Homo sapiens: one gene and its partner. The protein of the gene in region 1 interacts with the protein of each later gene in a pairwise test. Each region holds a gene or a part of one and is shown in the gene's direction. Other genes may lie near its edges.

Region 1 (7,476 bases):
GTCCACTGGGGTCCCCTGATTCCACGCTGCCAATCCTGGGCTCTAGTTTCCCCTTGGGGCCCTGAAGAAAGGGGACGGCGGCCCCTGGTGCCAAGGGCGAATAGGGAGCTGGGGCGCCCAGGCCTCACCTGGAGGGACCCCGGAGCATGCAGCATGGCTCTTTTTTTGCTGCCCTGTTTGCTGACTCTCCCCTCTCCAGACGCCCCTGCTCGAGTCCTTGCTACACACGCCCTGGGATTGTTGCCTCTTGGGGAAGTGCTAGCCTGACTAGTTGTCAGGGGCCCCGTATTTCTGCCATGACTCAGTCCCTAATTTGCTCTTTGATTCTGGACAAGCCACCTCTCCTTTTTGGGCTCATGTTTCCAGAGGAAGTAGTGAGTATCAAAGGTCTCTGTTAGCTCTCGAGTCTGAGATTTAAAGGCCTCCTAGAATGGAAACCTCAGGGCCAAAGGCTCCTGTCTGTCCTTTTCCGCCCTAAATCTTCTGTGAAGAACCGTACTTGGCCCGTACGTGCTCAGTAAATGTTTATTGAATGAATGCACTTTTCTAAATCACAAGCTGGCAGAAGGGGGGGCCTTTCTCAAACTCCATCTCTAGAGGTTTATGTTACTGTCCTGTCAAGAGATTCCAGATTCAGACCTTGAGTTCTGTGGCTGTGGACAAAAGCCAACAAAGACCCAAATCCTCTGTCCTTGGGAGCTTGAGGAGAGTTTACCAGTTCGAGTTCCCACTGGGTCTGAGAACTTTGCCTTTAAAATCCATTCCTGGCCCCTGCCTACCACTTCCTGCTCTGGGGAATAGAGTTGAGGGGGCCACCCTCCATCACCTTAATGTGACTCTCCCCACAGAAACAACAGAATAAACAAGTGGAACATCAGCTGGAAGAAGTAACATGATTTCTTTGTTTGCTCGCGACATGACTGCTCGGTTTGGGGGACACTCAGATGTAGAGGCCCCGAGTCTCGTCTCACCCACTCCCAGCCTGGGGAAGAAGGCTCACCCCCCAGAGTCCACCCCATCCCCCACAGGGTCCCTGATAACCCGGTCCCATGGGTGGGCCTGTCCCGGGGCAGGGGCAGTGGTGGCATTCTGGGGACATGTCTCTTGCAGTACCATCTCTGCCTCTGCCTGGTTAGATCTCTGTCTTCCTCTTCCTACAGGAAAAGAAAGCAAACAACGAGAAACAGAAAGCCGAAAGGGAGCTAGAGGTGAGTGGACGGTGTGCAGTTTTCTCCTGTCCTCCGGAGAATGTTTCTTTCCTTCTCTTTCAGCACTTGCTTGGCTTTTCTCCCAAAGGTTCAAATCCAGAGATTGAACATACAGAAAGGGAAACTAAATACGGACCTGTACCACACGAAACGTTCTCTCAGATACTTTGAAGGTGGGAATCTGGGTACCCTGTCATCCTTCAACCTGGCACTTTGACAGGTCTTCAGGGGGAGTCCTTTGGGCCCCATCTCAACTCTCTCATTACAGAAGAGTCCAAGGATCTGGCCGTCCGTCTGCAACATTCATTGCAGCGTAAAGGAGAGTTAGAGCGGGCTCTCTCTGCTGTCACCGCCACACAGAAGAAGAAGGCGGAGAGGGTGAGTCCAACCACCTGCCCCGTCCCCTGGGAGCCTGGCTTCGCAGACAGAGGAGTGAGCCTAAAGGTCCCTTCTGCAGGATGGAGTGTCCTGCCCAGAAGGCAGCATGGCCATTTCTCACTGCTTTTTTGTATGGTTGTTAGCGGCAGCTTGGGACTGAGTCAGCTGCTGTGGGTGAGTTGGGGGGCACTCTGGGGAGAGAGCACAGGACGTAGAGCTTGGAGGCCAAGTGCCTGCCATGCCTTTACCTGGCTGTGGTCTTGGCCAAGTCCTCAGTGGGTATTGGGTACTTGTACTGTGAAGGTACAGAAGAGTACCTTTAGTATGTTACCATTTCTGTAGAGAGAGGAAACGTGTGTGTGTGTGTACATATTATGATAATATACATAAAATATGTTTGCAAGTGTTCATAAAAACTCAGGAGAGAGCAACAGGGTGGCTGGGAGATACTTCCCTTCTGTACCTTCTGAGTTTGGGACTATGTGAATGTATTATCCTTTCAAAAAGTGAACAAAAGATTAATTTTCCCCTTCCTAGCTGTGCCCCCACCCCCAGCAAGAAAAATGGGCTTAGAGAATTGGATAGATCTGGGTGTTTAAATCCCAGCTCTGCCTAAGTGATCTTAGGCAAGCACTTAACCTCAAATACTCCATGTTTTTTCATCTACACAATAGAGGTCATCATAGTAACTGTCTCCCATGGTGGTTGCGAGGATTAAATGGGATTGCTAGCATGGTATCTGGTGAAGCACTCCATAAAAGTTCAAACAGTGGTAATAATAACAGTAATAACAATAGCAATATTATCTGATCTCTCTGGGCCTCTGTTAGCCAGCTATAAATTCGATCTCTTTCCCTGTCCCTTCCAACTTTACTGAGTTCTTTAAAAACCAAACCACGGGCTTGGAAATGCCTTGATCTTTACTGACCGAGTTGTATATTGGGCCTAGCCCTGGCCCTTTTAAGGGGCACTGTGTGGAATGGCCCGGCCTCACCAGATTGAAACTTCTCACTCTTCAGCAGTTCTCCAGCCGCAGTAAAGCACGTATGGAGTGGAAGTTAGAGCAGTCCATGCGGGAGCAGGCACTGCTGAAAGCGCAGCTGACACAGGTGAGGTGTTCAGAAGGAGGGATGTGGAAGAAAGATGACCCCAGGTAACCAGGAGCAGGTGAGGACCAGTGACAGCCCTTCCTAATTTCTGTGCCCATTCTTGCAGTTGAAGGAGTCACTTAAAGAAGTCCAGCTAGAGAGGGATGAATATGCTGAACATCTAAAAGGAGAGAGGGCCCGGTGGCAGCAGAGGATGAGAAAAATGTCGCAGGAGGTGAGATCTGACCCTTCAGCCCCCCCACATTAGATAGGTCACTGGATCTTTCTGGGCACCTGTAAAATGGGAATAGTAGAGCCAGAGGTGGTCCTGGGACTGGGCTTTGTGGAGGTGGGGGCAGAGAGGGAGATGGTAGCATGTCCAGCCTCCAGCCCCTCTCTCCAGGGCCCTTTCCCCCTGTGCTTTGGGCAGGTTTGCTCGTTGAAGAAGGAGAAGAAGCATGATAAATATCGGGTAGAGAAGCTGGAGAGGAGCTTGTCCAAACTCAAACACCAGATGGGTAAGATGGGGCTGGCGTGACCTGGCAGCAGGACTGGCATCAGAGGGCTGTGAGGGTGGCTTGGAGTGCCCCAGCGAGGTGGGTGGATGGAAGGGCTTTGAGGCAGAGGGAAAGAGGTCTGTGCCAGGAGACGGCAAGTCTTGTCATCTCAATGAGCCTCAGTGTCCCCATCAGCAAAGAGGGCCCGTTGTCAGCCACCCGCAGTGCTCTTTCTCTGAAAGTGCTTTGGAAGACTGGCTACCATCTGGGTGCGAGGAATCATTAGCAGTGAGGCTAAGTTTGAGGAGCCGGAGAGGAGCTGTGCGCCAAGAGGAGGGTTTTTTCTTTTCTTTTCTTTTTTTTTTTTTTTTTTTGGAATCCAGAGGCTCTTATTGTCTGCTTCCTTTCTCAGCTGAACCTCTGCCCCCGGAGCCCCCAGCAGTGCCCTCTGAGGTGGAGCTGCAGCACCTGAGGAAGGAACTAGAGAGAGTGGCAGGAGAGCTCCAGGCCCAGGTGGAGTACAATCAGCGCATAAGTCTCCTGAATGAGGGGCAAAAGGAGAGGCTTCGGGAGCAGGAGGAGAGGCTTCAGGAGCAGCAGGAGAGGCTTCCAGAGCAGGAGGAGAGGCTTCAGCAGCTGGCCGAGCCACAGAACAGCTTCAAGGAGCTGGTGCGTTGCCCCAGCTGGGGAGCCTGCCCTCCTCCCTAGCCCTCCAGGCCTTTGTTTCCCCACCTATAAAATGGGGCAGTGTAGCCCTCAAGTGAAATGTTACTCCTAAAGGCACCTGTGAGCCAGAGCCCTGCTCTGGTGGCTGTGGGAGACAGGGGATGATTTTTCTAACCTGCCTCCACCCTTCCCGGTGCCATGGGAGGCAGTCACCAAGTTCTGGGGTCTCCAGCTGCAGTGGGTGGCTGCTGATTGCTTCTCTCTGTCCAGAACAATGAGAACAAGAGCGTACTACAGTTGGAGCAGCAAGTAAAGGAGCTGCAGGAGAAGCTAGGCAAGGTGAAGGAGACGGTAACCTCCACCCCATCCAAGAAGGTCTGGGAGGTGGGTGGGCACCAGCCTCTGGGGAGGGGAGGTGCCAGTCCAGCGGTAGCTCCAGCCCGGGGGCAGGTGACCCCAGCACCCTCCAGGGCAGTCCTGTGGCTGTTTCTTGCTTCCTGCCCTCTGATTTTAGAGGTGGGTAGCCCTGGGCTCCTCCCAGGTCTGGACATCATCATTCCAGCTAGAGACATGGAGCCCCCCCAATCACAGGGGAAGAGACAGAGTGGTATAACAGTCTTCTTATGCCAGATGCGGTGGCTTACGCCTATAGTGCCAACACTTTGGGAGGCTGAGGCAGGAGAATCACTTGAGGTTTGGAGTTTGAGATCAGCCTGGCCAACATGGTAAAACCTCATCTCTACTAAAATTACAAAAACAAAAAACAAAAAAAGAAAGAAAAATTAGTGGGGCATGGTGGTGGCGCATGCCTGTAATCCCACCTACTCAGGAGGCTGAGGCACGAGAATTGCTTGAGCCCAGGAGGTGGAGGTTGCAGTGAGCTGAGATTGCACCACTGCACTCCTGCCTGGGCCACAGAGTGACACTCTGTCTCAAAACAAAACAAAAAGACTCCTTAGATTAAAACTGGATTCCAGCCTCAGTTCCACTGGTCACCATTCAAGTACTTCGCATCTCTAAGTCTCTGTTTCTTTAACTTCAAAAGGAAGTTAGCATTTTCCTTACAGAGGTGCTGAGGATTAAATGAGATAATACATGGGAAGCATTAGGCCTGTAGCACATTTAGCAGATGGTGGTTGGCTCCCATACTTTTCTACCATTCTGTGGCCTACAGTTGAAATGGTGGGAAGAGGACATGAGATTTGAGGCTGGGGAAGGAGGCATGGGGTTCTAGGAAAGCAAGGCAGTCACTTAGGCCTGAAGTAAGGGGCCAGGGGCCTGGGCAGGCGACAGAGCCCCACAGTGCCCTCGCTACCCTATTAATGGGCCCAGAATCTGCAAACCAGCCACCACGTGCCCTCACACCCAGGGTCTTCCTGCAGGTGGAGCTGAAGAGCCAAGAGGCTCAGAGTCTGCAGCAGCAGCCAGACCATTACCTGGGTCACCTGCAGCAGTACGTGGCCACCTATCAGCAGCAGGTGGCCGCCTATCAGCAGCTGACCTGTGAGAAGGAGGCGCTGTACAGGCAGTGACTGCAGCAGACCCAGCTAATGAACCAGTTGCAGCAGCAGGAAGCTTGGGGCAAAGCGGTGGCCGAGATGGCCTGCCAAAAGTTGCAGGAGACCCAGGGGAGGGAGCTGCCGAGGATGGGGCTGTGAGGGGGACGACCTGGCAAACTCTGTGCCTTCTCACTCTTTCCTGGCCCCTTAGGAGCGTCTGGAAGCTGCGAGCCAGCAGAAACAGCAGCTAACGGCCCAGTTGAGCCTCATGGCTCTCCCTGGGGAAGGTACGGGAGACCGCTCAGAGGAAGAGGAGAGAGCCCCAGGAGGAAGGGGGGACTGCTAGCAGCATAGGATTGAGGAGTTGGAAGAGACCTTTAGAACAGCTGGTCATTATACTAACCGGGTGCCTGCACTAAGTTCAGCATCAATATGGTGACCTCCTGTGAGCGGGGGGCCACCAAGTTGCCTAAGGATGGCTGAACTGGCCGAGGTCAGAAAGGGAGCAGGTCAGAACTCCCGCACCGACCAGTAGTGGGAATGTGCCTGGGCAGTATAGCAAGATCTTGGTTCTTCAAAGTAAAAATAAATAACAGCAGCTCATTCCTCTCTGGGGAGGGCCTGGCTCAGGGTTACACAATGAGGGTGGAGGCAGAGGTGGGCCCACAATACTTCCCTTGTTGAGTTGTCTGAGGACCCCTCTGGCCACCACCCCCACCCCCAGGAGATGGAGGAGGACATCTGGACAGTGAGGGGGAGGAGGCACCTCGGCCCATTCCTAGCATCCCACAGGACCTGGAGAGCAGGGAGGCCATGGTGAGCCTGACTCCACCTGAACCCATTTTGCCTCCTTCCTCTGTGGTCCCTCCAAGACCCCTTTATGCTCTTCGTTTCCCTGCCTTCTGATTTCTCTGGACCCTCACCCCTTCTGGGAGCCAGTGGTCAGACACCATTTCACCTGTGACCAACATGTGCAGTCTCTGGGGCCCCAAGGGAAGGGGCTGCGCTCCACCTCTCTGCCCCATTTGTTCTGTGTATGCCCCTGCAAGAATGCTCACATCTTGCCCTCAGGTGGCATTTTTCAAGTCCGCTGGAGCTAGTGCCCAGGAGAAGCAGGCACAGTTACAAGAGCAGGTGAAAGAGCAGAGGGTGTGCTGCCAGCGCCTGGCTCACCCGGTGGCCTCGGCCCAGAAGGAGCCAGAGGCAGCCAGAGGCCCTGGAGCCCCAGGGCCTGGGGGCGAGTCTGTGAGTGGGGAGACCCACCGGGCCCTGCAGGAAGTCACGGAGAAGCTGGCCCATGCCGGAACTCACCTCCGCCTTCTCCATGACTTGAAAATGCCACCTGAGGGCAGGTCGCTGGCGAGATGTGACCCCATTATTTTGGCTCCAGAGCGGCTTTATGGACCACCTGGAGGAGAAGGCAGACCTGAGTGAGCTGGTGGAGAAAGAAGAACTTGGATTCTTCCAGTACTACAGAGAGAGATGCCATCAGTGAGTGGGAGGCCAGGGCATGGCAGGGGGAGCTGCAGGGCTGTTGGAGGGGCCCCAGCGTCTGAGCCCTGTCCTCCCGCAGGAAAGTTTATCACCCTATAACAAAGCCAGGGGGCAGTGCCAAAGATGCAGCACCGGGAGGAGGACACCATCAGGCTGGCCCTGGACAGGGAGGAGATGAAGGTAGAGTGTGCAACATCTCTGCGGGGGTGGGGGTGGCTGTGACGGTGAGCGCTGGCAGCAGCGTGACAGCTGAGCACCCCTCCCTCCAGGTGAAGCTGCTGGAGCTGCAGGAGATGGTGTTGCAGCTGGTGGCGACTACAAGGGACACAGCAAATTCTTGGTGACTGCCCAGAACCCTGCTCATGAGCCCAGTCCAGGAGCCCCAGCCCCCCAGGAGCTTGGGGCTGCCCACAAGCATGGTGGTGAGTAGAGCCCTCAGGCGGGGTGGGCAGGCAGGAGCAGGGGGGCTCTCACTGAGCTCAGATCCCCGCCTCCCTCTCTCCAAAGATCTTTGTGAGGTGAGCCTCACTGACAGCGTGGAGCCTGTGCAAGGAGAGGCCAGGGAGGGTTCTCCCCACGACAACCCTACTGCACAGCCGATCGTGCAGGACCACCAGGAGCACCCAGGCTTGGGCAGCAACTGCTG
Region 2 (7,476 bases), on another chromosome or scaffold:
TGCTTTGTATTTTCAAGTTTTCTTATCTTTTCCACACCTTCTCTTCATGTACAATTCTGTTTTGTTATTTTTCAGGAGAGGGTCTCTTCCCAGGGGTAATTGATTTGTTTGGTGGTTTGGGTGGGCTGCTTGAATTTCGGGCCAGCCTCCTAGCCAGTCGTGGCTTCGCCTCCTTGGCCTTGGCTTACCATAACTATGAAGACCTGCCCCGCAAACCAGAAGTAACAGATTTGGAATATTTTGAGGAGGCTGCCAACTTTCTCCTGAGACATCCAAAGGTAATTTTTGTCTTTTCAGTAGGTTTGAGTCCCTGGGGTTTTTTTGTTTCTGTTTTTGTTTTTGTTAAAAGACAGGGTCTTGCTCCGTCACCCAGGCTGGAGTGCAGTGGCATGATCTGACACTTGGCCAGAAGCCAGTGCCTTTTGATACTACAATGTGCACAGGCTAACTTCCTATGCATTTTGTCTTTCTGAGCAAAAGACACTGGATGAGAAATAAATCATGTGAATTATAAATAACATGGGCATGAATAGAATTTCAAGTTCACTGAGAATCGTACTTGGAAGTTAAGAGAAGTCATAGGATATTATGGTTATTTTTTAAAAAGGGACTGGCTGGGTGTGATGGCTCAAGCCTGTAATTCTAGCACTCTGGGAGGCCAAGATGGGAGGATTAATAGAGGCCGACAGTTCAAGACCAGCCTGGGCAACATAGCCAAACTCTTTCTCTATAAATACTAAAAAAATAGCTGGGTGTGGTAGCAGGCACCTGTAGTCCCACTTACTTAGCAGGGGCTGAGGAGGAAAGATCGCTTGAGCCTGGGAGGTTGAGACTGCGGTGAGCCATGTTCCTGCCACTGTACTCCAGCCTGGGTGACAAAGCAAAAAAAAAAAAAGGATAATGCATGCAAAATGCTTATCATAGAACCTGGCAATACTAAGCACTCAAAGATGAACAAATGTTAGACAAAACTTTCTGTGATCTGACTTCTACATACTGCTTCAGCCTTATCTTATAGCTCTAATTATTAACTAGCTATCATTTTTCTCATCACTATACTTAACTGGACAGATAATCTGTATTTCTTTGAAGAATGAGTCTGAATTTTTAGTTACTCATGAGCCCTTAAACATAATACTATTAGTGCTTTCCAATCCATATGCCTTTTAAAATTTTAAAACATGTGCTTTGCTACTATGATATGGGATAGAGTTGGAGTTTATTAAACCTTGTTAATTGCCCAATATTTTTTCTTTCCTTTCCTTTTTTTTTTTTTTTTTTCTTTTTTTGACAGAGTCTCGCTCTGTCACCTAGGCTAGAGGCAGTGGCACAATCTCAGCTCACTGCAACCTCCACCTCCCAGGTTCAAGCAATTTTCCTACCTTAGCCTCCTGAGTAGCTGGGACTATAGGCGCGTGCCACCATACCTGGCTAATTTTTGTATTTTTAGTAGAGACGGGGTTTTGCCATATTGGGAAAGCTGGTCTCCAACTCCTGACCTCAAGTGATCCACCTGCCTTGGCCTCTATTTTTTTTTTTAATAAGAATTGAAATAAAATTAAATCTCCATACTACATGTTTTTTTATATAAGGATCACCAAAATATAATCAGGTTTGCAGAAATAAGATAAGCAACAATTACTGACAATCTACTGATGTAGTGAACATTTTAAATGGCTATTTTTGATGCATATAATGGAACTGCCCTCGAAATGTCAGTCAATATTATCATTGTGAGCCTTCTTCTTGGCTTAGATGAGAAGTGGAGAGGTTATGTGATTCTCTTTTTTCACGGTCTTTGCCTCGTTCCCCTTATATTTGCTGCATGACTTTTTCATCACTGTTCTTGCCAGTGTCACATAGATAGCTAGTTAATGATTAATCCAGGCCTGGAAACCAGATTTTTTTCCCCAGACTCTGAGAAATTCCATTAAACCTACTTCACATTGTCTCTTCTGCAGGATGATAGAACAGAGATCTTTCTTGCAGGTCTTATTTCTCTATGTGTTGATTTTAAGTAACTTCTAAGAACTCATAATTTCCTGATCCCAAATTTTGTGGTAGAAGTTGTAACAAGAGTTACTGTTTTGGCAAGGGACAGAAACATATTAAAAAGCCTGCACAGATATGAGTCATGCTTTTTTGTTCTTTCGTGTTATACTTGCTTTTACTTTATCTTTCATGGCCAAATCCACTCTGAGTTCCCATCTTTCCTTAACATAACTGTCGCTCTCTATCTTATATATTAAGATATAGGATTGGGAGGGGTGGGGGAGAAAGGTAGGTCAAAGGGTACAAAGTTTCTGTTAGACAAGAAGACTAAGATCTGGTGATCTGTTGCACAGCATGGTGACTATAGTTAATAATAATGTATTGTATATTTCCAAATTGCTAAAAGATTAGATTTTAAATGTTCTTACCCCAAAGAAATGGTAAGTTTGTGAGGTAATGGATATGTTAATCAGCCTGATTTGTTCATTCCACCATGTATATATGCACTGAAATATCACATTATGCACCATAAATATGTATAATTATTATTTGTCAATTAAAAATAAAAATTAGGCCAGGCACAGTGGCTCATGCCTGTAATCCCAGCACTTTGGGAGGCCGAGGTGGGCAGATCACCTGAGATCAGGGGTTCAAGACCAGCCTGGCCAACATGGAGAAAACCCAACTCTACTAAAAATACAAAAATTAGCCAGGTGTGGTGGCGGGCGCCTGTAGTTCCAGCTCGGGAGGCTGAGGCCAGAGAATTGCTTGAACCTGAGAGGCGGAGGTTGCAGTGAGCCGAGATTGAGCCACCACACTCCAGCCTGGGTGACAGAATGAGACTCAGTCTCAAAAAATAAAAATAAAGTAAAAAATAATAAATTAAAATTAAAATTAAAAAAATACAGAATTTCAGAGCTTGAAAGGAACTTTTAATTGATTCAAGCCACCCCTGTTAAATATACAGGGTAGGAAATAGAGAGTATATATGACTCATTCCATTTGTTTAGTTTTTTTTTTCCCTCTTACCCTAAGAATTTCTCACATTTTCATCAGCTTGGCATGAGTTGTATATTGATTCATGTGTTTCTAAGTAGTAGGGAAAATATCCCAAACATTGGTTTATAAAATGCCTTTAAAATATAGGAGATCAATTAAAATAAATACAGGAAGTCAACAAAGGTTTTAGAAAAGTGATGCTTCTCTCTAGGACTCTGTCCTTGCCAGGAGCCAGTGCTCAAGGAGAATCGGAGCTTTATTTTGTGACACAACAATTTTCTTTAACTCCTCCTTAGAATTCCCAACCAAATTGGTAACTGGGAGCAATACACTCAATACTCAAAAATAACTCATGAACATGTAGTTTCCTTTTCATTTTTACTGCTGTTACCTTAGTTCAGGACAGTATAATTTTCTGCTTTTATCAGTGCATTAATCTGTGGCTTTTCTGCCTCCATTTATGCAAGTCAGAGTTGTAAACACAACTATTTTACTCGCTTGCTTAAGAGTCTCCCTATTTATTATAGGATAAAGGCCAGGCTTCCTAGCATGTTAGACAAAGCTTCCTATGATCTGACTTCTGCATACTTATTCAGTCTTATCTTATGCCCATCCTTAAAATTTGTCCTAATTTTCCTCCTTAGTTAGGAAAAAAACTGAAGATGCTTAATATATCTTTCAAAGCTATGCACCATAAAGTTGGTGTTTTCTGTTTCAGACTTATTATGTTATTTCCCACCTTATACTCTAAATTAAAATAATGAAGAATGACTTGTGGTTCCTCTAAATGCCTTGCTCTTCATTGCCTCTCAGTTTTTGCATGAGTTTCTCCTATGGTGAATACATTAGGAATGTTTTGGCTACATTTCTCAGAAAAGTGGCTGATGGTGGCTTAAACATCAGCATAAGGTATCTTATTCTCTTACATAACAGGTTTGGTGATAGGTGGTTCAAACTTTGGCTTAGAAACTCAGTGTAGTTTTCAATCAAGGAGATTAGATTGACATTTCTGCAATTTTCTAGCCTTACTCTGAAGGTCACAAAATGACTCTGGCAGTTTCAGGAATTAAGTCAACAGGCCAGCATCCTAGTCTGAAAAGAATGATCATAAACATAGGCTTTCTCTTCATGATTCTGTGTCAGTTTGCACGGGGGGCAAAAAAAGTCCTTAGGTAGAATATGTTGGCCTTGGAAGAGAGGCTGAGAAAGGGAAATAGATTAGGATCCATCAGAATTTATCCCTTGGGGCTGGATATATTGCTATGCCACACAAAATCAAGGTCATATTAGCTTTGAAATTGTGGAGAATGGCTCCTGTGTAGGCAACTAACAGAGTCTGCTATACTCAGCATAGAATACCATTCCTTCTTGTTGACTTTCTTGTAATTTTTATTTCTTGAGACAGGGTCTCACTCTATTGCCCAGGCTGGGGTACAATAGCACAATCATAGCTCACTAAAGCCTTGAACTCCTGGGCTCAAGTGATCCTTCCACCTCAACCTGAGTAGCTGGGCCTACAGGCACACACCGCCATATTCAACTAATTTTTTAGTTTTGTAGAGATAGGGTCTCACTATGTTAACCAGGCTTGGCTTTCATTTTTTAATACGAAGACTCATTTGTTTTGTAGCCCATTTCCTCTGAGAGCCTTTCTTTGATCCTGCCTTTATTCCCTGCTAATCTGGGTTGGCAGTCTAGCCTACATACATTCTCATATCATAGAATTTATGATGCTCCAATCATCTGGTGTGTTTTTTTTTTTCCTCCTGTGTCTTCATCTGGCAGTGAGTTCCTTAATGACAAGAGATTGTTCCTTTTCTCTCTGTGACTCCCAGTGCTTGCCGTAGGATAGATAATTTAAGGATGCTTATTTGATGACTGACAATGAGGGAGGAAGCTGAGCCAAGCCTCCTTTATGACATTTTTCTCCACAATGAGAAAACTTTTGGAAAAAACAAAGCAAATCTAGAATCCTCTGTTCAACTCTATCCTACTGATCTCACTTTCTTTCTCAGTCTCTTCCTACAAGGTGCCCTTTCCTCTGAAGGGAGGAAAGTGTACCAATCATCTATACCCTGACCCACATTATTCACAATAGTCATGTGCCATTTCTTACTTTCCCTGCGACATTTGCATTTCTTTAGGGCATTTTAAACTCAGAACCTAACACAATACTGAATCCGTAATATATAGTCGGTAAAGCTTGACATATTTTTGGAGTATTTCTTTTGAATACATATTATATATTCCAGAACTCTATAGCTAGGGATGTGGGTAGGATTAATACTTGCTTTGTTCTCATTAGCCAGTGAAGTTCTTTGGTTGTTTGAGATTGTGGAGTTTTCCTAAATGAAGGCTAGAATAATTTCTCATTTCTATTATTTTTTTCAGGTCTTTGGCTCAGGCGTTGGGGTAGTCTCTGTATGTCAAGGAGTACAGATTGGACTATCTATGGCTATTTACCTAAAGCAAGTCACAGCCACGGTACTTATTAATGGGACCAACTTTCCTTTTGGCATTCCACAGGTATATCATGGTCAGATCCATCAGCCCCTTCCCCATTCTGCACAATTAATATCCACCAATGCCTTGGGGTTACTAGAGCTCTATCGCACTTTTGAGACAACTCAAGTTGGGGCCAGTCAATATTTGTTTCCTATTGAAGAGGCCCAGGGGCAATTCCTCTTCATTGTAGGAGAAGGTGATAAGACTATCAACAGCAAAGCACACGCTGAACAAGCCATAGGACAGCTGAAGAGACATGGGAAGAACAACTGGACCCTGCTATCTTACCCTGGGGCAGGCCACCTGATAGAACCTCCCTATTCTCCTCTGTGCTGTGCCTCAACGACCCACGATTTGAGGTTACACTGGGGAGGAGAGGTGATCCCACACGCAGCTGCACAGGAACATGCTTGGAAGGAGATCCAGAGATTTCTCAGGAAGCACCTCATTCCAGATGTGACCAGTCAACTCTAAGAAGACTAGATATTCCTAGAAAATAAAGAAGCAAATCTCTTTACCGGGACCTTCTCTCAATTTTCATGGCGGAATGTCTCCCCCAGCTGCCACACACACATTTTGTATTAATTTTAATGATTAAAAAGAGCATAGGGTAAAAACCTGATATTTCACTTATACTGCATAACAAGCTAACCAAACTGGACATGGTGAATAAATCATAAAACAAATCATTTTACTTATTATTTACATGACTTTTCTTTCCATCAGGTCTTCTAAATAGGACTGAGGTATAGTACACTGGCAAAAATAAGAAAAGGCAAACAAGAATAGCACCAAAGTAACAGATATAAAACCAAATACCATGTCAGAAAACACTATATAGTAAGAATTTATCAGATTAGAGCAGCAGGAGAAAATTAATACTAAATTATAATCATTTTAGTGATATTTTTCAACTTCACCACAGTAACTTTGCAACATCATTTTTCATTTGTGGGGTAGTAAAATTCATGTCAAAAAGGAAAGAAGGAATGGAGGAGGTCAGTTAGTTCATTGCAATAAATTACCTCTTCAGTTCTTAAAAACATGCCCATTGGCACATAACTGAGACATAATAACTAAGACTGGAAGAGCCTTGGTTTAAGTTATGAAGCAAATTAAAATGGAAAATACAAGAAAATAGAACCAATTAGGTTGAAAATGCCCCTTACTGAAAATCTGTATTAAAAATAAAATTAATAAAAGTAAAAAATAAAAATAGAAACACAACTCTACTAGTACAGGCTAGCCTGGGGAGTTTGATAAACTGAGTGATTGGGTCAACTATCACTGTACTTCCATAATGAATTTCTTCAGTCATGTTAGAGTAGCACATGAATGTGAGCTCTATAAGGACAGGTACTATATTTCCGTAAGACCCAATAGTTACTGTACATCCCATAAATAAAAAATACTTTAGTTTGCTAACCAACTGAATATATGAGGACTGCATGTAATTCAACCACATGGTTGTTTGCTGTACAGTCCTTTGCAAATATTAAAAAATTTTTTTTGCTATAAGGCTTTGATCATATAGTCCTCATAGCAACATAACTACCATCTAGCATGTACCACATTTTGCAAGACTTTAAGTTCAACATTCCAAACTGCCAATTTGTATTATGTCCAAATGCAGTATCCTTGAGGAATATAGTGGGTCAGTTAAATATCTAGAGACATACAAACATCTGCTAATTCATCTCATTGAGATGGATCATTCTGATCTCCATCATCCACCCACTTTTCATCAGCTTCTCCTACTTCATTCTCCTCATAGTCTTTATCATGAGGGATTCTGTATCCTGTCTCTCATCTACACTTGCTGGCCTTCCTGGTTGTGATTTATTGGAACAGTCTACACAAAAACCATAGGGTCAAGATCCATGTCTTACTCCAACACTGGCTGCTAACATGATCTTACATACCATACATTTGCATTTTTATCCTTCTTGTGCACCAAGAAATGTTTTCTTACATGTTTTC

What was found. The genes of interacting proteins can lie anywhere in the genome.
Region 2: the proteins of GOLGA8F (region 1) and BAAT interact in binary tests that used the Homo sapiens proteins (3 or more experiments, as listed by UniProt).

Annotation. Positions count from the first base shown.
Region 1 is NC_000015.10:28,381,542-28,389,017, forward strand, and holds part of GOLGA8F (golgin subfamily A member 8F), read left to right. Parts: intron 1-848; coding exon 849-887; exon of another isoform or gene 888-1,160; coding exon 1,161-1,208; intron 1,209-1,296; coding exon 1,297-1,381; intron 1,382-1,476; coding exon 1,477-1,586; intron 1,587-2,605; coding exon 2,606-2,695; intron 2,696-2,801; coding exon 2,802-2,909; intron 2,910-3,104; coding exon 3,105-3,192; intron 3,193-3,583; coding exon 3,584-3,840; intron 3,841-4,107; coding exon 4,108-4,176; intron 4,177-5,547; coding exon 5,548-5,623; intron 5,624-6,060; coding exon 6,061-6,152; intron 6,153-6,726; coding exon 6,727-6,827; intron 6,828-6,909; coding exon 6,910-7,010; intron 7,011-7,099; coding exon 7,100-7,252; intron 7,253-7,337; coding exon 7,338-7,476.
Region 2 is NC_000009.12:101,360,922-101,368,397, reverse strand, and holds part of BAAT (bile acid-CoA:amino acid N-acyltransferase), read left to right. Parts: intron 1-75; coding exon 76-278; intron 279-5,382; coding exon 5,383-5,970; 3' UTR 5,971-7,476. UniProt on the Homo sapiens protein: Catalyzes the amidation of bile acids (BAs) with the amino acids taurine and glycine. More than 95% of the BAs are N-acyl amidates with glycine and taurine.